Homo sapiens: one gene and its partners. The protein of the gene in region 1 purifies or fractionates together with the protein of each later gene. This does not show direct contact. Each region holds a gene or a part of one and is shown on either strand. Other genes may lie near its edges. The genes, in order: TPTE, OPA1, UNC45A, LRPPRC, ALDH3A2, CAND2 and BZW2.

Evidence for each region.
Region 2: the proteins of TPTE (region 1) and OPA1 purify together in Homo sapiens (affinity purification with mass spectrometry; one large-scale study listed by BioGRID and IntAct). This does not show direct contact.
Region 3: the proteins of TPTE (region 1) and UNC45A purify together in Homo sapiens (affinity purification with mass spectrometry, with the first as the bait; one large-scale study listed by BioGRID). This does not show direct contact.
Region 4: the proteins of TPTE (region 1) and LRPPRC purify together in Homo sapiens (affinity purification with mass spectrometry, with the first as the bait; one large-scale study listed by BioGRID). This does not show direct contact.
Region 5: the proteins of TPTE (region 1) and ALDH3A2 purify together in Homo sapiens (affinity purification with mass spectrometry; 2 studies listed by BioGRID and IntAct, with this or other methods). This does not show direct contact.
Region 6: the proteins of TPTE (region 1) and CAND2 purify together in Homo sapiens (affinity purification with mass spectrometry; 2 studies listed by BioGRID and IntAct, with this or other methods). This does not show direct contact.
Region 7: the proteins of TPTE (region 1) and BZW2 purify together in Homo sapiens (affinity purification with mass spectrometry, with the first as the bait; 2 studies listed by BioGRID). This does not show direct contact.

What each region holds. Positions count from the first base shown.
Region 1 is NC_000021.9:10,576,803-10,581,011, forward strand, and holds part of TPTE (putative tyrosine-protein phosphatase TPTE), read left to right. Parts: intron 1-657; coding exon 658-718; intron 719-1,534; coding exon 1,535-1,616; intron 1,617-1,714; coding exon 1,715-1,803; intron 1,804-4,209.
Region 2 is NC_000003.12:193,641,220-193,645,428, reverse strand, and holds part of OPA1 (dynamin-like GTPase OPA1, mitochondrial), read right to left. Parts: intron 2,665-4,209; coding exon 2,584-2,664; intron 2,455-2,583; coding exon 2,380-2,454; intron 2,057-2,379; coding exon 1,985-2,056; intron 1,902-1,984; coding exon 1,802-1,901; intron 1,455-1,801; coding exon 1,324-1,454; intron 1-1,323. UniProt on the Homo sapiens protein: Dynamin-related GTPase that is essential for normal mitochondrial morphology by mediating fusion of the mitochondrial inner membranes, regulating cristae morphology and maintaining respiratory chain function.
Region 3 is NC_000015.10:90,944,972-90,949,180, forward strand, and holds part of UNC45A (protein unc-45 homolog A), read left to right. Parts: coding exon 1-92; intron 93-1,642; coding exon 1,643-1,943; intron 1,944-2,824; coding exon 2,825-2,919; intron 2,920-3,170; coding exon 3,171-3,312; intron 3,313-3,682; coding exon 3,683-3,823; intron 3,824-4,209.
Region 4 is NC_000002.12:43,985,430-43,989,638, forward strand, and holds part of LRPPRC (leucine-rich PPR motif-containing protein, mitochondrial precursor), read right to left. Parts: intron 1-4,209. UniProt on the Homo sapiens protein: May play a role in RNA metabolism in both nuclei and mitochondria. In the nucleus binds to HNRPA1-associated poly(A) mRNAs and is part of nmRNP complexes at late stages of mRNA maturation which are possibly associated with nuclear mRNA export.
Region 5 is NC_000017.11:19,672,516-19,675,897, reverse strand, and holds part of ALDH3A2 (aldehyde dehydrogenase family 3 member A2), read right to left. Parts: intron 2,748-3,382; coding exon of another isoform or gene 2,664-2,747; exon of another isoform or gene 2,623-2,663; intron 341-2,622; coding exon 326-340; coding exon of another isoform or gene 273-325; 3' UTR 1-272.
Region 6 is NC_000003.12:12,802,726-12,806,934, reverse strand, and holds part of CAND2 (cullin-associated NEDD8-dissociated protein 2), read right to left. Parts: intron 3,448-4,209; coding exon 3,304-3,447; intron 1-3,303.
Region 7 is NC_000007.14:16,697,630-16,701,838, reverse strand, and holds part of BZW2 (eIF5-mimic protein 1), read right to left. Parts: intron 3,792-4,209; coding exon 3,653-3,791; intron 1-3,652. UniProt on the Homo sapiens protein: Translation initiation regulator which represses non-AUG initiated translation and repeat-associated non-AUG (RAN) initiated translation by acting as a competitive inhibitor of eukaryotic translation initiation factor 5 (EIF5) function.

The DNA of each region.
Region 1 (4,209 bases):
TATTTGTTTTTCATTTTAAAGGTTATACATATATACATATATATATATATATATATATATATATATATATATATAGACACACACTTTATAGGTACACATATATCTTCATTTAAAAAAATAAAGAGAACAAATGAGCCAAAAAAGTCTCCATATTGTTACCAGTTATTTAAAATTTGATATGTTTATCTTTTTCTATCACACATACACACAATCATACTATATGCTTTTTGCATTTGTTTACATAGTGCTTAGATAGACTGTAATATGCAGATCACTCTCTAAAGATGTATCTATTCAGAATTAAATAAGAACGAATATGAATTAGATTTAAACAAGATCCATATTAACTGTGAATTAATGATTTAGAACAAATTACTTAAAGTTAGTTAACCAGCTAATTTACTTATCTGATAGCTTTAAACAGTGTGCATTTACAATAGAGACTCATCTGAGTAGCCAAACATACTTGTGGACTATTTGAAAAATCACAGTGGATTAGAACTTGAAGTTTGCATACCCTCTTATTCCCTGAATCTCCACTAGAAGATGCTAGTGAGAGACAAATTAATAAAAGTAATAACCATTTTAGGTTCCCCCTAGGAAATAGCTTATGTTGGTGCCATGTAAATATGTAAGATATGTGTTTGTCTTTTTTAGGAAGTTGTGCGGTTTCTAGATAAGAAACACCGAAACCACTATCGAGTCTACAATCTATGCAGTATGTACATTACTCTATATTGTGCTACTGTAGATAGAAAACAGATTACTGCACGTAAGAAGATGATTTTGTTTTTTAGATTGCATTTAATCATAAGTATTTGGTAGTGGCAAGGAATGAATTTAAAAATCCCCATCTTGGACTGGCCCCATTTAGTAGAAGGAGTTAGCCCAGCAGCACAAAGTACCGTATGAAGGATGTGGCTTTGGCAGGACCAATGAAGCTGGAGTGGAAGAAAACCATTTTAGGGAAGATCTGTTCTAGCGATATTAGGTTTAGGAAAATCTTTCTGTTTTTCTTGCCAGATTGTGTTATGAGGACATAGACAATTTAACAAATGAGTCTTCTGACCCATCAGCAGTGGCATGTGATGAGAGCAAGGCTCTAGATGGGAAAAAAGCAAAAAACTGTAGAAAATAGGTTGTAACCCAGTTTAATACCCTGTCTCTCTTGATTTTTTCCTCTACCTGTATACTCAATAGACATTTTCAGGGGGCAAACATTTTGGTCAGCTACATTTGCCTTGTGTGGTTTCTAACTACCCTGAAATAATATAATGAATAGTCTGCTAGAAAGTTAAAAATTATACCTATTAAACAAAAATAAGTTGAGTTTAGGTTATATGAGATGGATAAACCACTACCATCCTTATATTTTTGAAACGCTTGCGTTTATTTTAGAGTGGCAGGAGCAACTTGGAAAGCTCTTTTTGAAGATAGATAAGGAATTCTAATAAGATATGTTAACTTATTCATAACTTCCTCATTTATCATGTTATTCCCTATAGAGATATGACATACATATTATTTATTTTAGGTGAAAGAGCTTACGATCCTAAGCACTTCCATAATAGGGTCGTTAGAATCATGATTGATGATCATAATGTCCCCACTCTACAGTAAGTTTTATGCTAAATTGACTATCAGAAGAGGGCTAAATATATTGGGCTTGATTTTTTGAAAATATTTTAACTAAAAATCTTAAACTTGAAATCAGTCAGATGGTGGTTTTCACCAAGGAAGTAAATGAGTGGATGGCTCAAGATCTTGAAAACATCGTAGCGATTCACTGTAAAGGAGGCACAGGTAATAACATTTTCCTTTTTATTTCTCCATTTCTAAAGACATGTAAATATACATAAAGTACAAGAACAAGATACGTATTGCTATTAATATGTATTAATAATTGTTAGCATTTTTAAATATTAGCTCCAAGACTGAAAGAAGGGAAGGAGAAAGGAAAGAGGAGAGGAGGAAGGGTAGGAGATAGGGAGAGGATAAGGAAGGGAAGAAAGTAAGAAAAAAGAACTAAGGAAGGTTGAGCATATTTTCCCTTGTTTTCCTAGTATTTGGATTTCTTTATTTTTGGTTTGCTAGTTTATATCTCTCAAAATACAAACAGTCTTTAATTTTAGAATATCAGAGTACTGTTATTTAAGGCTGATCTTTTTTATTTTTAAATTAACAAATAAAAAACCAATATATTTATGGTGTACAACATGATGTTTTGATATAGGTAAACATTGTGAAATGGCTAAATCAAGCTAATTAGCATATGCATTACTCCACATATTTTTGTGTGAGAACATTTAAAATCTACTGTCTCAGCAATTTTCAAGTATACATTATTATTAACTGTGGTCACTATGTTGTACAATAAATTTCCTGAACTTATTCTTCCTGTCTAACTGAAATTTTGCATCCTTTAATTAACATCTCAGGCTGGGCACAGTGGCTCACACCTGTAATCCCAGCACTTTGGGAGGTTGAGGCAGGTGGATCACATGGTGAAGCCCCATCTCTACTAAAAATTACAAAACATTAGCCAGGTGTGGTGGCATGCACCTGTAATCCCAGCTACTCGGAAGGCTGAGGCAGAAGAATCGCTTGAACCTGGGAGGCAGAGGTTGCGGTGAGCTGAGATCGCACCATTGCACTCCAGCCCAAGCAACAAGAACAAAACTCCATCTAAAAAAATAACAATAATCATAAAGTAAAAACCAACATCTTCACAATCCCCCAAGTTTTGTCTCCCCAGCCCCTGGTAACCACCATTCTACTCTCTGCTTCTATGAATTTGACTTTTTTAGATTCCACAAATAAGCAAGACATGCAGTATTTGTCTTTCTACGCCTGGCTTATTTCACTTAACATAATGTTCTCCAGGTTCGTCCATATTATCTCGAGTGACAGGATCTCCTCTAAGGCTGAATAGTATGCCTTTAATTATATATACCATATATTATTTATCCATTCATCCACTGATGACATTTAGATTGACTCCATAGCTTGGGTATTATGAATAATGCTGCAGTGAACATGGGAGTGCAGATTTCATTTCCTTTGGATATATACCCAGAAGTGGAATCTCCAAATCATATGGTAGTTCTATTTTTGGTTTTTTGAGAAATCTCAGTGCTGTTTTCCACAATAACTACTAATTTACATTCACACCAACAGCGTACAAGGGGGTTCCCTTTTCTCTTCATCCTCACCAACTCTTCTTTTGTCTTTTTGTTAATGACCATCCTAACAGGTGTGAGGATATCTCTTTGTGGTTTTAATTTGCTTTTCCCTGATGATTAATGATGTTTAGCATTTTCTCATTATACCTCTTGGCCATTTGTGTGTCTTCTGTTGAGAAATATCTTTTCAGGTTCTTTGCCCATTTTCTAGAGAAGTAACTTGTTCTCTTGCTATTGTGTTGTCTGAATTCCTTTTTTAAAAAATCTGTTAACCTATTATCGAATGTATGCTTTGTAGATATTTCTCCCATTCTGTAGGTTGTCTCTTTACTCTATAAATATCTCCTTTGCTGTGCAAAAGCGTTTTAGTTTGATACAGTATCATTTGTCTACTTTTTCTTTCGTTGCCTATGCTTTTCAGTCATATCCAAAAATATCTTGGCCCAGACCAATGTCAAGAAGATTTTCACCTATCTTTTCTTCTAGTAGTTTTCCAATTTCATGTTTCACAGTTAAGCATTTACTTTGAGTTGATTTTTGTATATTGGGTGAGATAGGTTGCAATTTCATTTTTCTGCAAGTGGATATTCAGTTTCCCCAGTATCGTTTATTGAAGAGACTGTCCTTTCCTCATCTTGGATTCTTGGCACCTTTGTTGAATATCAGCTGAGTATAAATGCATGGATTTTTTCTGGGCTTTGTATTCTGTTCCATTGGTCTATATGTCTGTTTTTGTTCCAGTAATATTTAAGGTTGTTCTTAAACTTTGTGAGAACCTTTTAGATTAAGGGAGCCAACAGAGATGCTATATCAAAAATTATACTGGAATTTTTATAGTGTAATGATACGAAGAAGTTGACATTGGTGGGGTGAAAATGGGGGAAAAAAGCCATTTGTAAATCCAACCAATTTAAGTTTAGTTAGATTTTCTCTCATTCAGGTTTGGGCTTTAAATAATCATCTAAGCATATTTCACAAATTTTGACAAACATAAATAATTACATTTTTAGTGGGCTCTAAATCAATT
Region 2 (4,209 bases), on another chromosome or scaffold:
GCATTTAAAATGTTTTTCCATTGCTATTTGAAAAAAATACATTTAATTTTACTACATTGAAAATGTATTATTAAAACACACGTATCGAAAACCCGGAATGATGTGTAGTTCTTTAAAGTCAGACAGACCTTAGTTTGAATTCCTGCTCTGCTGCCTAGTAGTTATGCGACCTTAAGTAAACAACTTAATTTTTTCAAAAAGGTTGGTGAGATTATGGGACAATATGATACAGTGCCAGGCATGAAGCACTCAATAAATGGTAGCTATTATTATTTTTCCATACTTTCTTCAAATATCTAAATTCTAACCAAGCTGGATTGTCTTCTTTTACTCCTTCCTCCCCTCCCACCTTCTTCTTTAATATTTGGATCCACTGCTTCTCAACTCTTTTAGGATCAAAAATCCATTTCTAAATGTGACTAAAAAAAAAAAAAGACTATGTACCCAGAAAAATGCATATTTGCATAGAGACCTTTCACATATGTTAGAGTTTCTACCCCCTGAAGCCCATTCAGATTAATAATGGGATGAGAATCCCTCCTTTAAGACAAGTTACACCTAAGCTAATGCTGAATCTTTTATACAAAAAGGACTGAAATAAGCTTCAGTTGCATCTCAGAAGAAATATAAACTCACTATCCTAGAGTTGAAAGAAATGAAAGGAATGAAGAAAGATGGGGAGGAGGCCACAGAAATTTGTTTCTACCTCACTTCTCCCCTTCTCCATATCAGAACCATTAATGCCACGGCAGGCCTTACCCTTAAAAAGAAAGCAGAACAGAGGTTATGGTGGCTACCTAGAAAAGGGTTAACACAGCAGGCCTGAGACTACTGTCCTTAAAAAGGCCTGCCTGTCTTTGGCTGGTATCTGAAAACTTAACTGGTAAACAGTTCCCTACACTGATATAAACCTTTCCTTATATAACAGTGGCTCACTACTGAAGTAATGTGGTTTAATTATAACATATGCTTTCCTTTTGGGAGTATGAAATAATTTTGGTACATGAGGGTGCCGAAATGACTAACCTCCGATGAAAACCTTAGGAGCTGAGTCTCTAACAAGCAGCTTGTTGCTGGAGGAATTAAATGTGCCCAGTAGAGTCTACTGGGAATGAACTAGTGGAAAAACGTGAGCCTGGTTTCCTTCAGACTTCATACCATGTACCATTTCCTTTTGTGATTTTGCTTTATCCTTTCATTGTAATAAATCTTAGTTGTAAGGTGTTTTTTTGTTGTTGTTGTTGTTTTTTTAAATAACAAATCCCTATCACAGCTGGAGCTTTTACAAAGAATCTATTCTCGCAACAAAGAATTTGACCTCACCCTGCTTGGACTGGCTACATTTTTCTCTGCCAGGTCTACTTTGGTCAAAACGAATATGGTTCTCCTTCCATGAGGGTCCATTTGACTGACCAAGTCTGTAACAATACTGCGTTCAGCATCCACAGATCCATCTGAAAAAAATAAAAAAATGACACTGTGGAATTTTAAGATGTAAAGTAGACTTTTAAAACTCAGTACAAATTATACCCCTGTGTCTACATTATAGCAAGAAAGATTTTAATACATTTACGTTATTTACTAAAAAGAAATCCTAGCCGATAAAAATTTCAATGATGCTTATGTAAAACTTATCAAAATAATTTCAACTTCAATTTAATTTACTAATAAAATGAATACGAAGAGAAGGCAAAAATGCATTTATCTTGTATGTTTACATAACACAAACTATTTAATGCAAAGCTTGGATTGCTAAAGAAGAAAACATATCAGTACATTAAAATCTTTTGATATGATTTACCTTGAATACACAGTATGATGGCATTAGGATTCTGCATGTAAGCTTTGCTGATACTGAAAATAGTTTCCTTTGTGTCAGGAGCCATGCCTGATGTCACAGTCTTAAAGAAAAAGGTTTTAAATGTCATTATAAATGCTTCACACAATAAGAATAAAATAAAATACATGTTTTGTATATACTTACATTAATCACACCTGGTAAGTCAACAAGCACCATCCTCTGTAGTCCAGGGCCTTTTACATTTAAGGATATGGTCTACTCAGGAAAAATAAAAATAAAACAATGCTAAAGTTTGGGGGGAATTTGTCAAGAATTTTTTTTGGTGAAATGTATTCTAAAAATTCTATATCTCATCCATTCAGATAAGACGCTCACAAAAATGGTATTCTTTCTCTGATCCTAAAAGTAATTATTCTGGAAAATTACCCACAAAATGATATATTATTTGGATTTTTTTTTAAAAGCTCTACATATCTAGATAGCAGCAATCTAAACATCAATACCTAGATTTTGATTTATTTGAAATCATAAACATTTAATTTCCATAAAACGTCACTGAAATGAATTGCAACCCTTACCTCAGGGCTAACGGTACAGCCTTCTTTCACATTTTTCCTCATTCGAAGTTCTATTTCATGTCTTAATGCTGCAAGCTAATGGAAAACACAAAATCCTAAGAAAATCTAAGAAAATCTTAATTCACAAATATTCTTTAACTGTCTTTTATAAGCTCATCCAGGTTATAAAATTACACATATCAACCTTAGATGAATTTTACTTACATCTTCTTCTTTGGTAAGATCAAACTCCCGAGAACTATCTTTAAATAGGGCCACATGGTGAGGACCTTCACTCAGAGTCACCTGATAGTAACAGAAAACTGAGAGGTAATGATGTATTTATAAGTAATATTAATTCCCACAGCCCGTATGTGGTCTAGACAGGGCTACTGCATTGCACAAATCCAAGAGTCCCTTCACACTACTGCTGGGGCACCCCCTGAAGCTGTCAACATGGTAGTTCTGACAAGACAATAATTTTGTATTTGTATTGTTTGTATATATGTCATATATGTTGTGATTTCCCAACAAGAATGCTGGTTCCTTTATATCGCTTATGACCTAAAATGCTGCTGCCTCTTTCTTTCCCCAGTCAATGCTATACACAGCACTAAGCCCAAAATCATCTCTCTAAAACTTGAAACACTAAAAGGAAACCTTGCATTTAACCTCAAAGATGAATTTAGGTAAAGGACAATTCATTCATTCAACCTCTATAGAGAGTGAACTATGTGTCAGGTGTTGTAGGTGGGGAAACACAGAGCTGACTGTCCCAGTTTTAGACCTCATCACATGCTGGGAGAAATATACACAGACATAATAGAAGAGAGTGACAAAACCTAGGGTGCCACAGAAGAGAATGGAACTGATGATAAGGGAGCTACGACAGGCTTCACTCAAGGAGTGATATTTGGGTAAGAAATTTTGTTTTGTTTGTTTTTTTGTTTGTTTTGAGACCGAGTCTCATTCTGTCGCCCAGGCTGAAGTGCAGTGGCATGATCTCGGCTCACTGCAACCTCCACTTCGCGGTTTCAGGTGATTCTCCTGCCTCAGCCTCCCGAGTAGCTGGGATTACAGATGCCCGCCACCACACCTGGCAAGTTTTTTGTACTTTTAGTAGAGACAGGGTTTCGCCATGTTGGCCAGGCTGGTCTTGAACTCTTGACCTCAGGTGATCCGCCCTCCTCAGCCTCCCAAAGTGCTGGGATTACAGGCATGAGCCACTGCACCCAGCCAAGAAATGTTATAGCAATGTATATTAACAGTCAGTGGTTTCACAAGAACTTCTAAATGCCTAATTGACACCTTTCTAGCTTCTCTATAGTTATTTTACTTTAAAAATACAATTCCTTCTACTGAGATTAGCTAAACAGGCTAAATTTAAAAACAATAAACAGCTGTTGGAAAGCTGTTTAGCTATTTTCCATCAGAGGATTTGCTGATTTGTAGCACAGGGCAAAGGCCCAAGAGAAAAACTTAAAATGTGTAGCAGTTTCACTGGGTTGAGTAGACAAGATTGGAATTCCGAGTTATTAAGTAGTCACGTCTTAAGGTGCCACAATCCCAAAGAAAAATGAACTGCAGAAATAAACCTCCAAAACAAAACAAAACCCTACATCCTGCGCACAATTTCCTTTCACGGCATTCACATTTTAGGAAACCAAGCAGAAAGAAGCTGCTAAGGAGGTTAAAATGCTAAGCTGGGGTTTTGGCACTTTCACTGCTCTAGGGAAACAAAAAACTGGAATTCAGGGTTGGTCAAGGAGAAGCTCTAGTAAACACTAAGGGACTAATGACAAACCGGAAAGAGACCAGCCTCATCTGTTTCAAGGAAACCTGTCCACACCC
Region 3 (4,209 bases), on another chromosome or scaffold:
AGCGCCTCTATTCTCCTCAGCAAGCTCTTTGATGACCTCAAGTGTGATGCGGAGAGGGAGAATTTCCACAGACTTTGTGAAAACTACATCAAGTAAGGAAGTCTGTTTCACCTCCCGTTGCCAGGGATTCTAGCGAAAAAGTTCTGACTCCTTGAGGAGGGGCAGAAATGAAAGGTTTCCAGCAGAAACAGTAATCTTGGGGAGGACTAGTTGGAGGCTGAACAAAGGGAAAGTGGCCCCAAGGCCCACTTCCTGCTCCAAAGTGGCCTCCGCAGGGAGGTTCTTTCTCAAGTCAATGTTCCAATAATGCAACAAACGCCATCAAGCACGTACTGGGTTTACCAAACACTTCCTACGCTTCTGTTCCCACACAGATGAAACATGACAGTCCTTTTTTTTTTTTTCTTGAGACAGAGTTTCACTCTTGTTGCTCAGGCTGGAGTGCAATGGCATGATCTCAGGTCACCACAACCTTCGCCTCTAGGGTTCAAGCGATTCTCCTGCTTCAGCCTCCTGAGTAGCTGGGATCACAGGCATGCACCACCACACCCAGCTAATTTTGTATTTTTAGTAGAGACGGGGTTTCTCCATATTGGTCAGGCTGGTCTCGAACTCCCGACCTCAGGTGATCCGCCTGCCTTGGCTTCCCAAAGTGCTGGGATTTTTTTTTTTTTTTTGAGATGGAGTTTCGCTCTTGTTGCCCAGGCTGGAGTACAATGGTATGATCTTGGCTCATTGCAACCTCCACCCTCCCAGGTTCAAGCAATTCTCCTGCCTCAGCTTCCCAAGTAGCTGGGATAATAGGCACCCACCACCACGCCTGGCTAATTTTTGTATTTTTAGTAGAGATGGGGTTTCACCATGTTGGCCAGGCTGGTCTCGAACTCCTGACCTCACACCTGAGGTGATCTGCCCGCCTTGGCCTCCTAAAGTGCTGGGATTACAGGCATGAGGACCGCGTCCAGGCGACAGTCCTTGTTCTTAAAGGAGATTATAGGCCAGGTGTGGTGGCTTACACCTGTAATCCCAGCACTTTGGGAGGTGGAGGCAGGTGGGTGATCACCTTAGGTCAGGAGTTCGAGACCAGCCTGGCCAACATGGTGAAACCCCATCTCTACTAAAAATACAGAAAATTAGCCAGGTGTGGTGGTGGGTGCCTGTAATCCCAGCTACTTGGGAGGCTGAGGCAGGAGAATCGCTTGAATCCAGGAGGTGGAGGTTGCAGTGAGCCGAGATCACGCCATTGCACTCCAGCCTTGGGGACAGAGTGAGACTCTGTCTCAAAAAAAAAAAAAAAAAAGAAAGAAAAAAAATTAAAGGAGCTTACAGCTGTTGGGGAGAAAACTGATGATAAATTATGAAATAAGCCGAATCATTTCAGAGCTTAAGTCCAGGAAGGGACATCACTGGTGGTATGGGAGTAACCTGTATTAGATACTATGTCAGGGAAGGCTTGAGTGAAAGTCGATAAAGAAAATCAGCCATTATTGTCCAGGTGGAAACGTCCTAGTCCTCCCATTGGCAGCTTTCCTGCTGTTTCTGCCCAAGTAGTGCAGGTGCCTGGCCAGTGGAGGGGAAGGGAGGGAAGAAGAGTCCCTTTATGTTGGCCTTGGTGTGACGGCTGTCACCCTGTGCCCCTCAGGAGCTGGTTTGAGGGCCAAGGGCTGGCCGGGAAGCTACGGGCCATCCAGACGGTGTCCTGCCTCCTGCAGGGCCCATGTGACGCTGGCAACCGGGCCTTGGAGCTGAGCGGTGTCATGGAGAGTGTGATTGCTCTGTGTGCCTCTGAGCAGGAGGAGGAGCAGCTGGTGGCCGTGGAGGCTCTGATCCATGCAGCCGGCAAGGCTAAGCGGGCCTCATTCATCACTGCCAATGGTGTCTCGCTGCTGAAGGACCTATATAAGTGCAGCGAGAAGGACAGCATCCGCATCCGGGCGCTAGTGGTGAGACGGTGGGCCTGGGGTGGGTGGGCAGGCAGCCAGGCAGGGGTCCTGGTCCAGCCGGTGTTGCAGGGTGTGGCCCCAGCACACTCCAGATGAAAATAAGGAATACTGTAATGCCAAAAAAATTAGCTAGGCTTGGTGGTGCATGCCTATAGGTCCAGCTACTTGGGAGGCTGAGGCAGGAGGATCACTTGAGCTCAGGAGGTTGAGGCTGTGGTGAGTCACGCATGTCACTGCACTCCTGCCTGGGCAACACAGCAAGACCCTCTCTAAAATAAATGGATGAATGAACGAGATTCTGGGCTTTCTTGTGGTGAGAGACATCGGCATGGCTCCTCCCTCCATGGGGCTTAAGACTGGGCCTGCAGGGGTCATGCAGTGTTCCTGGGAGCTGGTGGTTTGGGGGTTTGGGGACTACCTGGCCCTCCATGAGCCTGTTGTGGCTGTGCACCCTGTGGAAGCTGGTCTTCCTCCCTGGGGCACTCAGTCCTGGATTTCTCCATCCCATAAGGATTTGGCTGTGGCTGAAGCACCTGTCCTCTCCCCACATGCCTCTCAACTCCACCTGCAGAGGGCTTCTTTGTGCGACATGGAAGGAAACAGAGCCATTCTCAGTGTGGCCTGGGAAGGGGTGGGGCCCACGACTGTCCAGCGGCCAGCGCATCAGTGTCTGCAGATGCTGTGTCATGCGGCCACCCCAGTAGCTGATTTTCTTGCCACATGCTCTAGGTGGTGGTCTGGAGGGAGAGGGTGCTGATTTGTCTGTGTAGCTTCCAGGGGGCCATGGCAGAGTGCCAGGGAGGGAGTCCAAGCCAGGTGTGGAGGAGCTCAGCTCCTGCCTCCTTCCCCAGAGGCCAACTGGTCTTGCCCTCTTCCTCCAGGGACTCTGTAAGCTCGGTTCGGCTGGAGGGACTGACTTCAGCATGAAGCAGTTTGCTGAAGGCTCCACTCTCAAACTGGCTAAGCAGTGTCGAAAGTGAGTCATCTGGCCTTGCTGTGGTTCCCCACCTGTGGGGTAGATCTCAAGACACAGGGGTCTGGGTGGGGGTTGGGGCCTCCTCCGTCCTGCTCTCTGGCTCAGGCAGGGGCTGCAGTCTGGATCCTGGTACGTGAACTGCTTCTGTACATTGAGGGGATGCCCAAACCCTTGGTTTTTCCCCCTTGGCCTTGGTGTACCCCTCCGTACCCCCAATCCTGAGGGTCGTCCACTATCCTGCGTGTCCCCAGGTGGCTGTGCAATGACCAGATCGACGCAGGCACTCGGCGCTGGGCAGTGGAGGGCCTGGCTTACCTGACCTTTGATGCCGACGTGAAGGAAGAGTTTGTGGAGGATGCGGCTGCTCTGAAAGCTCTGTTCCAGCTCAGCAGGGTAGCTCTGTGGTTCCTGCCGTCAGCCTGGGGACACTGTCTAGGATTAGACCTTACCAGGCTTTCTCGGCAGGGCTTGGCCAATGGGGTCTTTTGACCCCAGGGAAGAGGGCTGGTGGCTGAGTGGCTGCTCTGTGTAGTGTGGGCATGTTGGCCAGCACCAGTGGTGTTAGCAAGGACGTTCTTCTTGGAGGAGCTGGGGAGGTCAAGTTTGTAAGCTCCCAAAGTCTGGGGCCTGGGAGTTTCCCGAATTCATCCTGTACCCAAGGGTCCCAGCTGAGGGTGGAATTGGGGGCCTGGGCCTGGGCAGCATTTATCTGAGTACTGCTCTGCCCCGGGATGCCCATGTGAATTCCTCTGTGTCCTGGCAGTTGGAGGAGAGGTCAGTGCTCTTTGCGGTGGCCTCAGCGCTGGTGAACTGCACCAACAGCTATGACTACGAGGAGCCCGACCCCAAGATGGTGGAGCTGGCCAAGTATGCCAAGCAGCATGTGCCCGAGCAGCACCCCAAGGTGAGGGGCCGCCAGAGGGGCTAGAGGGTTCCCCACCATGGGGACAGCTAACCCAGGGCATCCACAGCAGAACAACCTCCCTTTTTTTTTTTTTTTTTTTTTGAGATGGAGTCTCACTGTCTCCCAGGCTGGAGTGCAGTGATGCGATCTCGGCTCACTGCAAGCTCCGCCTCCCGGGTTCATGCCATTCTCCTGCCTCAGCCTCCCGAGTAGCTGGGACTACAGGTGCCCGCCACCATGCCTGGCTAATTTTTTGTATTTTTAGTGGAGACAGTGTTTCACCGTGTTAGCCAGGATGATCTCGATCTCCTGACCTCGTGATCCGCCTGCCTCAGCCTCCCAAAGTGCTGGGATTACAGGTGTGAGCCACCGTGCCCAGCCAACAG
Region 4 (4,209 bases), on another chromosome or scaffold:
ACAGTATCATACAAAATAATTTCACCACCCTAAAAATGCCCCATGCTCTATCTCCTCATTCCTTCCACCCTCCTTCCGAACCCCTGGCAACCACTGATTTTTACCTGTCTCTAGTTTTGCCTTTCCCAGAATGTCATATAGTTGCATCATACAGCATGCTGCCCTTTCAGATTGGCTTCTTTCACCTAGCAATACACATTTAAGGTTCCTCCATGTCTTTTCACAGCATGACGGCGCACTTCTTTTCATTGTTGAATAATGTTCTTTTGTAGATATACATGATTTGTTTACCCATTTGCCTACTGAAGGACATCCAGGTTGCTTCCAATTTTTGACAATTATGAATAAAGCTGCTATAAGCATTTGTGTGAAGGTTTTGGTATGGACATGCATTTTGAACTCATTTGGGTAAATACCTAATGGTAAATCTATGTTTAGCTTTCTAAGAAAACTATCAAACTATCTTCCAAAATAGCTATACCATTTTGCTTTCCTACTAGCAATAAATGAGAGTTCCTGTTGTCCTACATGCTTGCCAGTATTTGGGGTTTTCGACGTTTTGCTGGATTGTTGCCATTCCGATAGTGGTATCTCATTGTTGTTTTAATTTATATTTCTCTAATGACATAAGCTGTTGAACATCTTTTCGTATGCTTATTTGCCATCTATATGTCTTTTCTGGTGAAGTATTTTCTGCCCATTTTTATTTATTTTATTTTGAGATGGAGTCTTGCTCTGTCACCCAGACTGGAGTACAATGGCGCGACCTCAGGTCACTGCAACCTCTGCCTCAGGATTCAAGCGATTCTCATGCCTCAGCCTCCTGAGTAGCTGGGATTACAGGCACACACCACCATGCCCGACTAATTTTTATATTTTTAGTACAGACGGAGTTTTACCATGTTGGCCAGGCTGGTCTCAAACTCCTGACCTCAAGCGATCCGCCCACCTTGGCCTCCCAAAGTGCTAGGATTACAGGCATGAGCCACCATGCCCAGGCCATACACGTTCTTAAAACTCTTCTCTCCACTTTTTTTCTTCTTCACTGATATTATGAATCAGTTTAGTGTCACTTTAGAGCTATCAAGAGTTTAAAGGTAGATACAGGTAGAAGACAGAAGAGGCATTATTAATAGCTAATGTTTATCAGGTGTTTAATTTGTGCTGGGTATGAGAAAATTATAACTTACAAATGAAAAAACTGAAGCAACTTGCCCAAAGTCATCACAGTTAAGGCTAATGATAGGGCCAGGGTTAGCACTCAGACGGTCTCATTCTGAGACGGTCTCATTCTGAAACGAACTCAACGTGGCAAAAGGGCATTGAAGAAACTAATCTGGCTGCAATTGGGTGTTCACACTGGAAAGTGGTAAAAAATTAAACCTAGACAGTGAGAGTGAGACTAGACAGTGCAAAGTCTCTAATGGCAGATAAATAAGGGATTTGGATTTTATGACACACTTGTAAAGTACAAAACTAGTTTTCATAGAGCCGCTCTCTCAACTTATTTTGTTGCACTGTAATGTAGAAAATGGGGAACTCAAATTTATCTCCTACGTTTTCACCAATCCCTAATTTAACTATTCCACTTGAATTTTCTTTAGCCTGTTGATACGCTGGATCACGTGGATTGATTTTCAAATGCCGAACCAGCCTTGCACAGTTGGAATAAATCCCACTTGATCACGGTAAATCATTCTTTTTATATACTGCTGGAGCCTCCCGAGTTTTAAATGTATCCAAAATGCAAAAAGATAATGCCTTTTAAAAATGTTTGGTAATGAGCCGGACGCGGTGGCTCATGCCTGTAATCCCAGCACTTAGGGGAGGCCGAGGCGGGCAGATCACGAGGTCAGGAGATTGAGACCATCCTGGCTAACAAGGCGAAACCCCGTCTCTAATAAGAATACAAAAAATTAGCCAGGGGCCGTGGCGGGCGCCTATAGTCCCAGCTACTCAGGAAGCTGAGGCAGGAGAATGGCGTTAACCCAGGAGGCGGAGCTTGCAGTGAGCCGAGATAGCGTCACTGCACTCCAGGCCGGGCGACAGAGCCAGACTCCTCAAAAAAAAAAAAAAAAAAAAGGTTGGTATTCCCTTCAAATTTCTCCACTGCAACCAACCATTCCACTAATACCCTGTTCCCACAAACTCAAACTCAAAATCTTAGACTAATTATTTTATTGGGCAAAGTCTCTCAGCCTTTACATCCCATCTAGTGAGTGCTTAGATGTCTGAGGCTCTTGATGAACTCATGGATTTCTGCAACAAATCTTTAGTTTCTCAGGCTTCAGCCTCTCTTCATACAACTGCCAGATCAACCATCCTCAAAACCATCTTTTTTCAAAAATCCTATCATTGTTCTTTACTTATCACATCAATTCTGTTCTTCCATTTATTAATTCAAAATATATTTACTGAGTGCTTTCTATGTATAAGGCACTGGCTAGAATATTCTTATCTAGTAATAAATCTAATAAATTAGACCTTTAAAAATATTAATTATGGTAAATGTAATTAAGAAAAGAAACAACGGGCCAGGCACGGTAGCTCAAGCCTGTAATCCTAGCACTTTTGGAGGCCGAGGTAGGCAGATCACTTGAAGTCCGTTCGAGACCAGCCCGGCCAACATGTGAAACCCCATCTCTACTAAAAATACAAAAATAAGCCGGGCATGGTGGCAGGTGCCTGTAATCCCAGCAACTCAGAAGGCTGAGGCAGGAGAACTGCTTGAACCCAGGAGGCAGAGGGTGCAAGTGAGCCAAGATCGCCCCACTGCACTCCAGCCTGGGAGACAGAGACTCTGTCTCAAAAAAAAAAAAAAAAAAAGCTGGACACAGTGGCTCATGCCTGTAATCCCAACACTTTGGGAGGCCAAGGCGGGCGGATCACCTGAGGTCGGGAGTTCTAGACCAGCCTAACCAACATGAAGAAACCCCATCTCTACTAAAAATACAAACTTAGCCAGGCATGGTGGCGCATGCCTATAATCCCAGCTAGTTGGGAGGCTGAGGCAGGAGAATCGCTTGAACCTGGGAGGCAGAGGTTGCAGTGAGCCGAGATCACGCCACTGCACTTCAATCTGGGCAGTAAGAGCGAAACTCCGTCTAACAAGAAAGAAAAGAGACGCCACTGCTCAATAAACAATAGCTGTCTTATTATAGAAGGTGCTCAATAAATGCCTCTGAGTTTTTGTTTGTTTGTTTTTTGAGATGGAGTCTCGCTCTGTCACCTCCGGAGTAGCTGGGACTACAGGCACCCGCCACCACGCCCAGCTAATTTTTTTGTTATTTTTTTCAGTAGAAACGGCGTTTCACCATGTTAGCCAGGATGGTCTCGATCTCCTGACCTCGTGATCCGCCCGCCTGAGCCTCCCAAAGTGTTGGGATTACAGGCATGAGCCACCACGCCTGACCAAATGCCTCTGAGTTTTTACAATATCTTTCCTTTATCTTTTTTTTGAGACAGGGTCTCATTCTGTTGTCCAGGCTGGAGTGCAGTGGTGCAATTATGGCTCACTGCAGCTTTGAACTCCTGGCCTCAAGCAATCCTCCCACCTCAGCCTCAGCTCCCAAGTAGCTAGGACTACAGGTGCATGCCACCACAGCTGGCTAATTTCTTTTTTTCTAGAGACAGGAGTCTCACTATGTTGCCCAGGCTGGTCTTGAACTCCTGGCTTCAAGTGATCTTCCTGCCTCAGACTCTCAAAGTGCGGAGATTACTGGGCCTGGCCTAAAAAATCTTTTATAAAACTAAGTCACAATGAACTTTCTCCCTCTAAGAACTGAATTCTCCAAAAACTTTTGACAAATTTAGCTGCCCCAGTTTTATGCTTTATGGTAAATCACAGAATTTTAGACTAAAAAAGCTACTAGCCACCCTTCTACACTTTATAACAACCTTCTGGCCTGAAATACCAATCCACTCCTTTCCACCTATCGAGATTTCCCTTCCATCTCCCAGGATCCTCCAGTCAAATGGGATGTCTCCTGTGTCTCACCTATGGAGGAAGTAATGCAAAGTCAGTTAACCAGATTGGGACCGATAATGTGACATGGACACTCTTCAGAATCTATGAAGATCCCTTCCAGATACATTCTGAGATCTTCTATGTTTACTTACCTGTGAAAGTCTTTAAATCCCAAGTTTATATCATATATTGCCTTTTAAAAAATGTTTTTGTCCATAAGTAATCCCTTCACCATCTAAAAC
Region 5 (3,382 bases), on another chromosome or scaffold:
AGGATTCAGTGAGGTTCTGAGACTCCCTTACAACCCCGCAGTTTGTATTTAGTCTAATACATTCTCCTCCCCTAGCTCAAAGTTCCAAGATTTAGATAAGCACAATTTAAGACAGGTTCCCTGAATACCCTATTAGGGAATGTTGGGACGTAGTTGAAATGGCAACTTTTATTAATGATGAATGGCAATGACTTTTAAGTTTGATCACAGAGTGTTTGCATATTTTCTTACTATTTTTGGTATGATTTAAAAATTATTGGTTCATTAACCATTTAAAAGAGGAATAATTCAGTAGAGGCACTAGGAGGTTGAACAGGATCATTCTTCAGTAATATTCTGCCTGGAGAGAGGAAAAAAGGATTCAGTTTACTCAGCTGCTTTAAAAACCTACCCACAACCAGCCTTGCAACACAAGCTCAGCACTGGGACTCAGACACCTCCTGTCTGAAGAGACTCTACATGCATTGTACAAAAAAGGACTACATATCCCTAGGAAGCCTAGGAAGCACGGTTTAGGCCAAAGGATTATGCCCTTCCTCAAAAAACAACAATAACAATAAGAGTAAGACAACGTGATAATGAAGGCTATATTCTGTCCACTGTCAACTAGCTAATGTCAGAGTAGAGACAGAAGATGAGAGTACTAACTTATTATCCTAGCATTTTCAGTAGGAAGCTGAAGTCTCTACATGGAATTCAAAAACTGGTATACAATTTTGTTTCTAAAATTCAAAAGTAGTACTGAATTTAATCCTTCCTATTGAAGACTGAGGAAGGGCTGCTGCAATCTCAAGGTTCAAATGTCATATTTAGTTGTCAAAGGCCTAATGAAATTTATCAACATTAACCTCTTATGTTTCTCGACCTTTTAAAACCCACATCTCCCACAATGCCTTCTGTAGCTTATAAGCTTTATTGGAACTTTACTTTGTGTACAATACTTCTGCTCTAAATCCCTTCTAATTCTAGTAAGGTAATTAATAAAATAAAATCCAAGAGTGTAACAAAATAAGGAAACTATTAAGTACATAAAAGCCATTTCAGAAAAATGTAATTACAATAAATAGACTATTCAGGTAAATATACAGTACAGATTCAAAGTCATTTATTTTAAATAAAAGGTAATTTGATAAAAAGAGGATTAAAAGCTCAGAAAGGAGCAGAAAAGCAGCAAAGTGGAAAAGAAAACCAAATCTCTACCTAGTTCCAGATTGAATCCAAAGAAATATTAACAACTATTAGTAATGAGAATTGAGCGGAAGGGTTGAAAGTGGCCTGGGGAATCACTGACACCTACTCCCTCACCCTGTAGATGAGCAAGCTGAGGCCCAAGAAAGAGCTCAGAAAAGGCCTTGCCCAAGTTCATTGAGCCAGGAATCAAACCACATTTTTTTGTTTCTGCTAAAGGTTTTATATATTGCTGCTTCTTTTATATATTGCTGCTTCTCTAGACCCTCACAGAGAAACATGCCTGCCAAACCCTTTGGGAACTCGAACCTGCCTGGCACACTGCACTGCACCTGAGGGAGGCTTCTTGGGGGTTTGGTAAGATTGGAGAATGCAGACTCAGCCTGGGCCTCCGTATTTTCCATGAGGCTAAAATATTCTATCCTACCAAGATGCATTATCAAACTGAGGAACCGAGGTCTTGGGAAAAGAACAAAAGAGACAGATATTGACCAGAGACCCAAGTAAGCTTCCGACCACACCTCCAGCCTCAGGAAGGCAAAGAAAGTAGCCCCTAAATTGTATACTACACCTTGATTTCACGACATTTGCTGCCATGAATTCCAAAGTCAAACCTTTTTTTAAAAATGAAAACAAATCAAAACTACTTAGTGATTTAAAAAACATATTCTTAAATTATGACATAAAGAGTTCAGTGCCTAGATGGTGACAAGTCTGAATTAGTCAGCTGGCACCTCCCCCAGGAGAGCTGAGTAGAAGGGGAAGAGAAATGAGGCTCACACTCAGCTGCCCTTTTCCAAGAAATGATGTATGCTTCACCTGGACGCAGCTAAGCCATTGCCTCTGCACACTTCTCTTAGATTCCTAGCAAGTCACTTCACCCTTTTAAAATTGTGGATAAGTGGAGTTTTAACACCCTGATACTCTGGGCCCAGGTCCAAAATGTCTAGAGATAAGTAAGTTAAACATTCTTTTTTCTTTCTTTTTTTTTGGAGACGGAGTCTTGCTCTGTCACCCAGGGTGGAGTGCAGTGGCACAATCTTGGCTCACTGCAACCTCTGCCTCCCGGGTTAAAGCAATTCTCCTGCCTCAGCCTCCCTAGTAGCTGGGACTACAGTCACGTACCACCACACCCAGCTAACGTTTGTATTTTTAGTAGAGATGGGGTTTCACCATGTTGGCCAGGCTGTTCTCGAACTCCGGAACTCAGGCAATCCACCTGCCTTGGCCTCCCAAAGTGCTAGGATTACAGGCGTGAGCCACTGCGCCCGGCCCATTCTTTTTTCAATAACCCTTAAGCCTCCAACTGTAGCAAAAAAAAAACAAAAATAAAAACAAAAACAAAAACAAAAACAAAAACAAACCAAAAAACCCTTGAAAACATACCCCAACTTGGCCCACCTTACATATAGAAAGAAAACAAAAAGTTCCTACCTCACTCTTAACAGACAGGGCTGGGTTTTGAAATCTGGTGTTCATCTCTGCTTACTGGACCAACGCAGTCTGTGAACTACCAGAAAAATCAACAGGGCCTTTCTCCTCAGCACAGCTTGGTATTTCTGAGAAAACCCAAATGATTTCAAATGCAACTGGTATCTCCAATTCCACTAAGGCTGGGATACTGTAAGATGAGCCAAACCCCTTTCAAATTTTTGTTGTTGTTGTTGTTGAGATGGAGTCTCGCTCTATTGCCCAGGCTGGAGTGCAGTGGCATGATCTTGGCTCACTGCAACCTCCACCTCCCGGGTTCAAGTGATTCTCCTCCCTCAGCCTCCCGAGTAGCTGGGACTACAGGTGCGTGCCACCATGCCTGGCTAATTTTTGTATTTTTAGTAGAGACAGGGTTTCACCATATTGGTCAGGCTGGTCTTGAACTCCTGACCTCGTGATTCCCCTGCCTCAGCCTCCCGAAGTGCTAGGATTACAGGTGTGAGCCACTGCGCCGGCCCCCTTTCAAATTTTAAACAAAACATAAACACAACTATTACCATTGCCTTTTCCAAGCCCATTCTTCACTGATATGGTCAATATTTTCAATGTTATATCCTCAGTTGAACGGCTGAGGGCACCACAGACACAATTGCCTTCCTCATTCCATCTTAACTTTAATTACGGATTTCCTCTTTCATCTCAAAATACGCAAACTGCTTTGAGAAGGCAGCTATCATGAGGGCCTCTTTGCAAGCCCATCCCT
Region 6 (4,209 bases), on another chromosome or scaffold:
GCATTTCTAGCAAGCTCCCAGTTGAGGCTGATACTGTAGGTGGTCCAGGGAGCACACTTGGAGAACCTCTGCCTTAGAGGCTTGCTTCTCAAAGTTTGGTGGTGAGTTAGCATTGGCAATGCCACTCGGGAGCTTGTTCAGGATGTGGAATCTCAGGCCTTACCCTACCCTAGATCTACTGAGCCAGGATCTGTAGCGCCACAAGGTCCCCAGGTGATTCCAATGCACAGGAAAGTGTAAAAACAGCGGCACTAGACGCCCTCGTTCTTGGCCTTAGTTGCCATCACCTGGGCCTCTAAAAAATGCCTACCTGGGCACTGCCCTCAGAGAGTCTCAGTTAATTGGTTTCAGATGTGGCCTGGAGGGGGTTGGGGGAGGGCTTTTAAAATTCCCCAGGTGATTCTAACATGCAGTCGAGGCTGACAACCTCTGCCCTACCTGAGTGGTTCTCAGACATTGGTGTGCATCAGAATGCAGATTCCAGGGTGCTATAGTCTCATCCTCTGCCCCAGCTCCCTTCCTGCTCCATCCCCTGAATCTGAATCCCTGGGCAGGGAATACAGGGTTTCAACAAGAGCTTCAGGTGACTGCAATGCACAATGGTTTTCTTTTTTCTTGATTTTTATTGAGATGAGGTCTCGCTCTGTTGCCCAGGCTGGAATACAGTGGCGTGATCATAGCCCACTGCAGCCTCAAACTCCTGGGCTCAAGCGATCCTCCTACACAGATGAGATTACATATTCAAGCCACCATGCTTGGCTAATTTCTTTTTTCAGTGTCTCGCTATGTTGCCCAGGCTGGTCTTGAACTGCTGGCCTCAAGTGATCCTCTTGCCTCAGCCTCCAGAATAGCTAGGACTACAGGCATGTGCACCATGGTTTTCAAACCTTGGTTCTCTCAACTTCCTTCTCCACAGCTCCTCTATCTACGTAATCATGGAGTCCTCCATCCTACCTCCTATAGCACTGGTTCCCACTAGGAGTAATACCACCTTGGCAATTTATGGGGGTCCTTGGTCATCAAAACTATTGAGTTAGTACTTCTGGCCTTTAAGGGGTTGAGAAGCAGGAACGGCAGAAAGACAATAATGTAAAACAAAGCACTGTCCATGCCCCGCAAGAGGTTCTAACATCCCAATGGGCATTTGTATAGGCAAAAGGCCTTTCTATAATTATCTGAGTCTAAAATTTCATTTTATACATAGACACAAAATACTTTTTTACATTGTTTTAATATACCACATTTTAGATTTTCTAAGAATGCAATTTTCAGGTAAATTGAAGGAAAATTCTACTTTGTTTTCTGGGAAACTTTATTGGGAGATGGTCACTCACTTTAGAAAATCCTGGCTGGGTGTGGTGGCTCATGCCTGTAATCCCAGCACTTTGGGAGGCCTAGGCAGGCAGATCACTTGAGGTCAGGAGTTCAAGACCAGCCTGGCCAACATGGTAAAACCCCGACTCTACTAAAAATACAAAAATTAGCCGGGTGTGGTGGTGCATGCCTGTAATGTCAGCTACTGAGGAGGCTGAGACATGGGAATCGCTTGAACCTGGGAGGGGGAGGTCACAGTGAGCTGAGATTGCACCACTGTACTCCAGCCTGAGTGACAAAGTGAGACTCTGTTTCAAAAAAAAAAAAAAGAAGAAAAAAAAAAGAAAATCTTGCCACTAAGAGCAATGGCCTCCAATTCTGAAACCTGAGTCCCCAACACCCCCTGTCTGTATCTGTACTCATGATGAGTTCACGTGTAGATGCAGGCTTCTCGTGACTTCATCACTTCTACCATCACAGTGCCCAAGCACGCATACATGGAAACACACATTACTATAAACTACATTCCTTCTAGTTTGCCTTTATGGTTATGGTTAGGGCATTATGTGTAGAGGTAGGTTTTATAATGTATGAATTTCATTTCCTAATAGGAAACGGTATTACAAACTATTTGTTATAAAAAGGTATTGGTTCTGCTGGTGTGAAACCCATCCTAAGTCTACTCCATGACCAGAAAGACATTCCCAGCTCATAAACTTGTCCATGTCACCTTCCTACATAAAACCCTTTACTGAATTCTCTCTGCTCTTGGGATCACATTGCAAATTCATTAACATGCCCCAGAAGAATGCCTGGACCCAGCTCACAGACAGTGGTTTGAGAGACAGTGCCCAATTCTCTCACCCTGTTGTCCCTTGATCCCTGGCATTCTATTTAAAATTACCCAGGTGATGCTAACCTGCAGTCAAGCTTGACAACCTCTGCCCTACACTAGTGGTTCTCAGGTGTGGGTGTGAGAATGACCCTACCACACAAGCATCCCCACGTGCTCTGCACATACCCTTGTCTTGTCTTTTTCTACTCGAGATAACTGGCCAACGTCTCAGGATCACAGCCTCACAGTGATCTAAGGCTGGGGCTTTTAGGACCTCTCCCAGTCCCATGTGCCCTAAGCCTTTTTTGTTTGTTTGTTTTTGAGATGGAATTTTTGCTCTTGTTGCCCAGGCTGGAGTGCAATGGCGCAATCTTGGCTCACTGCAATCTCTGCCTCCTGGGTTCAAGCGATTCTCCTGCCTCAGCCTCCCAAGTAGCTGTGATTACAGGCACGCACCACCATGCCCGGCAACTTTTTTTTTTTAATTATTATTTAGTAGAGACAGGGTTTCACCATGTTGGTCAGGCTGGTCTCAAACTCCTGACCTCAGGTGATCCACCTGCCTTGGCCTCTCAAAGTGCTGGGATTACAGGCATGAGCCACCGCACCCAGCCTTTAAGCCTTTACCACCTTGATGTGTGTCAGCTTGACCTTCCCAGCATTTACATCTGTCTGAGGGCTTTCTCTGGCTGGAGGTGGCAGGCAGTGGACAACCCTCCATCCTACCCCAGAAGCAGCCCTTAACCAATGACTACCAGGGAGCTGGTGGATTAATACCCCAGCTCCCTTACCCTTTGAGTGGGAAAAGTCCAAGGGACATGTCCTATACTGTGTCCCAGAGGTCCCCATGGGGTTAAGCTCATCAGGCCCACTGTGGTCACTTGCTTCGTACCATACCCTTGATTGGTCCTCTTCCCTTTCCTGCCTCACTTCCCTACTCCTCTACCATGTTTCCTGGGAGCGCCTCCCAAATAAACTTAGATTTGAATCCTTGTCTCAGCATCTTCTGGGAAAACTCAGACTAAGGTACCATTCAACGAGAGCTGCTCAGCAGGTCTCCTCTGCGAGGCTGTACCCCAAAGGGACAGCGGTCCCCAGGATGCTCCCACACAAGGTAGGGCCCCCTCTCCTGCTCCACCGAGGCTGACACTCACCACTTGACAGCCAGGTTCTGCACCTCACCGTTCTTGTCCTCCAGGAGCCGGAGCAGCATCTTCACCACCTTGCGCTCGCTGTCCTCGTCCAGCTGGATGGAGTCCTTCTGCAACTCCGACATCAGGTCGCTGGTGGCCATGAACCTGCACAGGGAGGGTGGAGGAGATTGCTGAGCAGCTCCTGGGCCCTGGTGGATTTGGGCAGTACCTCAGGGTTCCCCTAGAAGTAGACCTTAATACAAAGATTCGAGGTCAAATGCAGTCCTGTGTCACATAATGATGTTTTGGTAAGTGACAGGCAACATATACAATGGTTGTCCCATAAGATTATAATGGAGCTGGCCGGGCGCAATGGCTCACGCCTGTAATCCCAGCACTTTGGGAGGCCGAGGTGGGCAGATCACGAGGTCAGGAGATCAAGACCATCCTGGCTAACATGGTGAAACCCAGTCTCTACTAAACAAAATACAAAAAATTAGCCAGGTGTGGTGGCGGGCGCCTGTAGTCCCAGCTACTTGGGAGGCTGAAGCAGGAGAATGGCGTGAACCCGGGAGGCGGAGCTTGCAGTGAGCCAAGATCATGCCACTGTACTCCAGCCTGGGCGACAGAGAGAGACTCCGTCTCCAAAAAAAAAAAAAAAAAAGATTTTAATGGAGCTGCCCTATACAGGCATGCCATTTTAATCTTTTCTACCTTATTTTTACTGTACCTTTTCTATGTTTAGACACACAAATACCACTCTGTTACAACTGCCTACAGTACTCAATACAGGTTTGTAGCCTAGGAGCAACAGGCCACACCATATAGCCTGGGAGTGTAGTAGGCTCTACCATCTAGGTTGTGTAGGCACACTCTATGAGGTTCACACAAGGACAAAATCGCCTAAGGATGCACTTCTCAGAATGT
Region 7 (4,209 bases), on another chromosome or scaffold:
TTTTCTTCTACATCCTGAAATTCAGGAAGTCAGGGACTATATTTTGTTCATCTCATTTCCAGCATTTAATGAAAGACCTGCCCTATAGTATCGATTCAACACACGTTTAAGGAATAAATTTGTTAACTTGATGAGAAAAAATAAATATTTCTCAATTTGTAGAGTTCTAATGTATTCATGAGGATCGAAGAGACAATACTGTAAAAGTGGCTTGAGAACTGCTAAATTTTAGATCATGTTAGTTATTTAGAAACTTAGTCTGAAACTATGTCACTTGAAACTCTTGAAATTCAGAAATTTTTTTATTAGGAATGTCACATAGGGACACAAGTCAAAAATAATTTACCCTAAGAATGCTGGGAATATATGCTGAGAAGGGCACTCACCCTTTTTTAGAACTAGAATAAAAAACTCCTTTTAGAAAAATTTGCATGCAGGATAGAATTTAACCTAAAAAATTTCTGCAAACAAGAAAACCCATGATAGAGATAATAACAGTACTTGACAAGGTAGTTTTACACATTTTAGACCATGCTGAGTCTATGGGACTTATCTTCAGGGAAAAAAGAAGAGAAAATTATTTTTAAAAGTCAATAATGTGATGCTTGAAAGTTAGCAATGGATTTACTGTTTCTTACTACCTTAAAAATATGCAAATCTAGATTTTAATACAGAGAGTCTTTGCAAAATGACCCATCACCACTTTTTTCTTTGCTGACTAGCATTATTTAGTTTATTTGCTTTTATTCCACTGTTATTTATGTAAAAGATTTATAAATCTTTCAATAATGATATTCAATTAAGTAATTAGATTTGCCAAGGGGGACATGGCTAATCATATGCCCAAGTTTCTGCTATCATCAAGTTCTGGACATGTTGGGAAAGGGGAGGTGTGTGTGTGTCCATGTATATGTTTGTGTGTGCTCTGTGTGTCAGAGAGAGATAAAAATGAAAATTAAAATGGAGCAACGGTTTCCATTACATTTTAAAAACTTGTTTTAGAGCACTACGTTCCTTATGACAAACAAAAGGAATCCACAGAAACTTGGTAAAAGAAGCAGAGAAGACACTACTCCATATGTGTAAAATGTGGGTATGTACATGAAATCAAAGGTAAGTATAATCTTGAACATGTCACTGGAGTTCATAGCATCTGTTGCTTCTTGAATGCTATACACTTTACACCAGTGGTCCTGGTACAACAGTCAGAGCATCAGCTTGGAAACTTGTTAAAATGAAAATTCTCAGGCCCAACCCTGGCCCTACTGAATCAGAATCTCTGGGGGAGCTGTGTTTTATAACAAGCTCTCTGGGTAATTCTTAGGCATATTAGGAAAGGAGTGCTTTAACACTCACTGTTTACTAAGTCTCCCTCTAGGCATATAAAACACGGAATGAGAGCATCCAAATCTTTACAGAAACAAATCAAATACATGTCTCCTGGTGCACAAGTGTTTGGTGGACAAAATAAGGTGAAAGTAAAAATCTGGCAAAAAAGAGACAAGATGGTAAACATAGTTAACACAGTAACGCTCTTAACGGTGGTATGGAACAATCATTCCTCAGGGATTGCATGTTCTCCAGAGAAAACATGGAATCATTTCACTTAAGAAAACAGACTATATATATCATTCTGTGGAAAATTACAAAATTACCTAGAAAATGGTATTGAAAATGTTAGTTCAGTGATGTGTTTTAGGTTTACATTTTTAAAAAAGTTTCCCAATTTCATTTCCAAAAATAACTAAGGCAGAAATAAAATTGATGTTGACACTCACCCTTCCTGTGTTCCCTGGGGCCAGGTCATACTTGCCACAGACCTCACTAACTTTAGGTTATTTAAACGCTGATTACCTAGTTAATCAATGAGCCTAAGAGCTCATGCCTCTTCTTTTTACTTCCTAGTGCTTACTTCTTGAGTTATTTTCTAATTTCAGGTCATACTGACCCTTAGCATCTGGGGCTGATGAAGAAGAAAAAACTCAAAGTAGCCAGTTTTACTACCTGTCAGTAGTTGTTATAAGAAGTCTAAGTCTAAAGGAAAAGGAGGTTGGCATTAGTGGTTAAAATGAGAAATCTGAAGGATTTTAATAGTTCATGTGCCACCTAGATGTCATTTCCCGTAACAATGGGTTTGCTGATTCTTTGTGATTTCATTACAATAATACGATAGGGTGCTCCTGAAGATGAGACTCCGACAACGATGTCTCAGTTAAAAAAAAAAATTGGTGAGAAACACTGGTTGGGTTATCTTTTATATGACAAGAAAGCAAACTATGTTCAGGTAACTAACTAGTTTACGAACAGTTTGGTTTTCCGTAGTGGAAAAAATTGACCACCCTCAAAACAAATGTGAAACCTGTCCCATAGGTCTCTCTGCCAGTTTTACAAATGGAGCCAGCTGTGGCCACAGAAGGTTGGGCCCCACTTCTCGTTCTTGGCTGCTGGGTACCATCTATGAATTGGTAACATGGCTTGCAGGTTTGGTTCTGATGGGTGGATCACTTTGGGTATCATTGGGTGGGGCCTAGTTTTAGGACACTGCTATCTTATGACTAAATCCAAGAAGACCCAACTCAGGTCTGGTTGGAGAAAATACCAATTACTGAACTTCAAGTGGCAATGGGTGGCCATCATATTTTCCTCCTGACTATTATAATTGTTGCTGAATACCTCTGTGCCCTGAAAAAGTAAAATATCACCCAAACACTTGTGGACAAGATTCATTCATTTGAGGAATCTACGTGGCCAATAAAAATTCATTGTGAAATGCTATTAAGCATTTTTAAAAGAGCTATTATTTATCTAAAACCTTTATTTTCCAAATTCCCAAGATATAATTCAAAAGAGACAAATTTAGGAACACATGAAAGGGAAAATAAACATTTGGCTGGTATTATTTTAACTTTTCTGATATGATATTTATGAACATAATAACATAAAATAAACATGTTATAATGTTCAAAATGTACCACTTCTTAAGTGTTCCTTTTTCTCCCTCACAAAACTACATAAATGTAGGCCCAAAAAATAGCCTAGGACATTTCTGTATGCTGTAGGTATACAGATTGGGATCGGTTAAAACCTTTAGCATTCATATTTTAGTGCCAGTTGTCATAGCAACCTAATCCTTATAAATACAATGAAAAGACAGTAAATGTGAAAACCTAAAAATAGCCATTCCCTTGGAAAACAGGAGAATGGCTGGGCCAAGTAACTAAAATACAAAGTAAAAAGGCTAATTACTTCAGTAATTTTAAAGTCAGATTTATGGTACCTAAAAGAGTCTGAACATAATATATATACTATTTTGATAATCATTGTTATTAGAGCTAATCCTTACAATTCAAAAACAGGCTCAATTTTATATAATTACATTTTTTTTCCACCAACCCCAAGAAACAATTACCAGTTCATCTACCAATGAGAAGTGCCCAGGGGCCTAAGCAGGGTTTCCAAGGCAACGCATATATGGCGTGTATGCCTCCTCTCTCTACATGGTATGGTTGCCTCAATAAAACTTTCACAAATTAGCATCTTGCTGTCCCTCTCTAAACAGAGCCCCATGACCTCCTCTGCCTCATTGCCTGCTCTGCCTCTCAAAGAGCTTCAGCAAAACACAGAAGCACAGCAGTGGCACGTGGATGGATACCTTTATAAAAGAGAACCACAATCTTCTGAAAGGCTTTCATGAAATGGATGTTGTCGTAGCAGTATTCCTGAACCTTCTGGAGGAGGATCAGCTCTGACTGGCCTTGGGAGCTGAACACGGCCAGCAGGGGAGCATATTGCTAGAACAGAAGTGGAGAGTAAAAGCCGTCACTTGCGTGGGAGGTACAGAGCCGACACTGCTGGAACTATAACAGTAACCTGGAGGGTTGCTTAGAAAAGACTGACTTTCAGGATTGACACCTTTTATCATCATATTGTGCCCAATGGGGTGAGGGGAACAGAACAGTAGGAACAAAGCAGTATAGTCGACCTGTGAGGGAACTGGGAAGAAGATTCACATTTTTTCAATGGCAGAGCCACAGTCCAATAATACAATGGATATTCTATGAGGATATGACCTCATTTTCGAAATATCCCTTAGACATAGCAGGCCAGCAATTATCTTTAATATAGGCAGATTCTCATATTTGGTCTCTTAGTGGGTACAGGGAAGGAATCTTGATGAGCTGCTGGGATAAAAAGCATTCATTTAGAAAT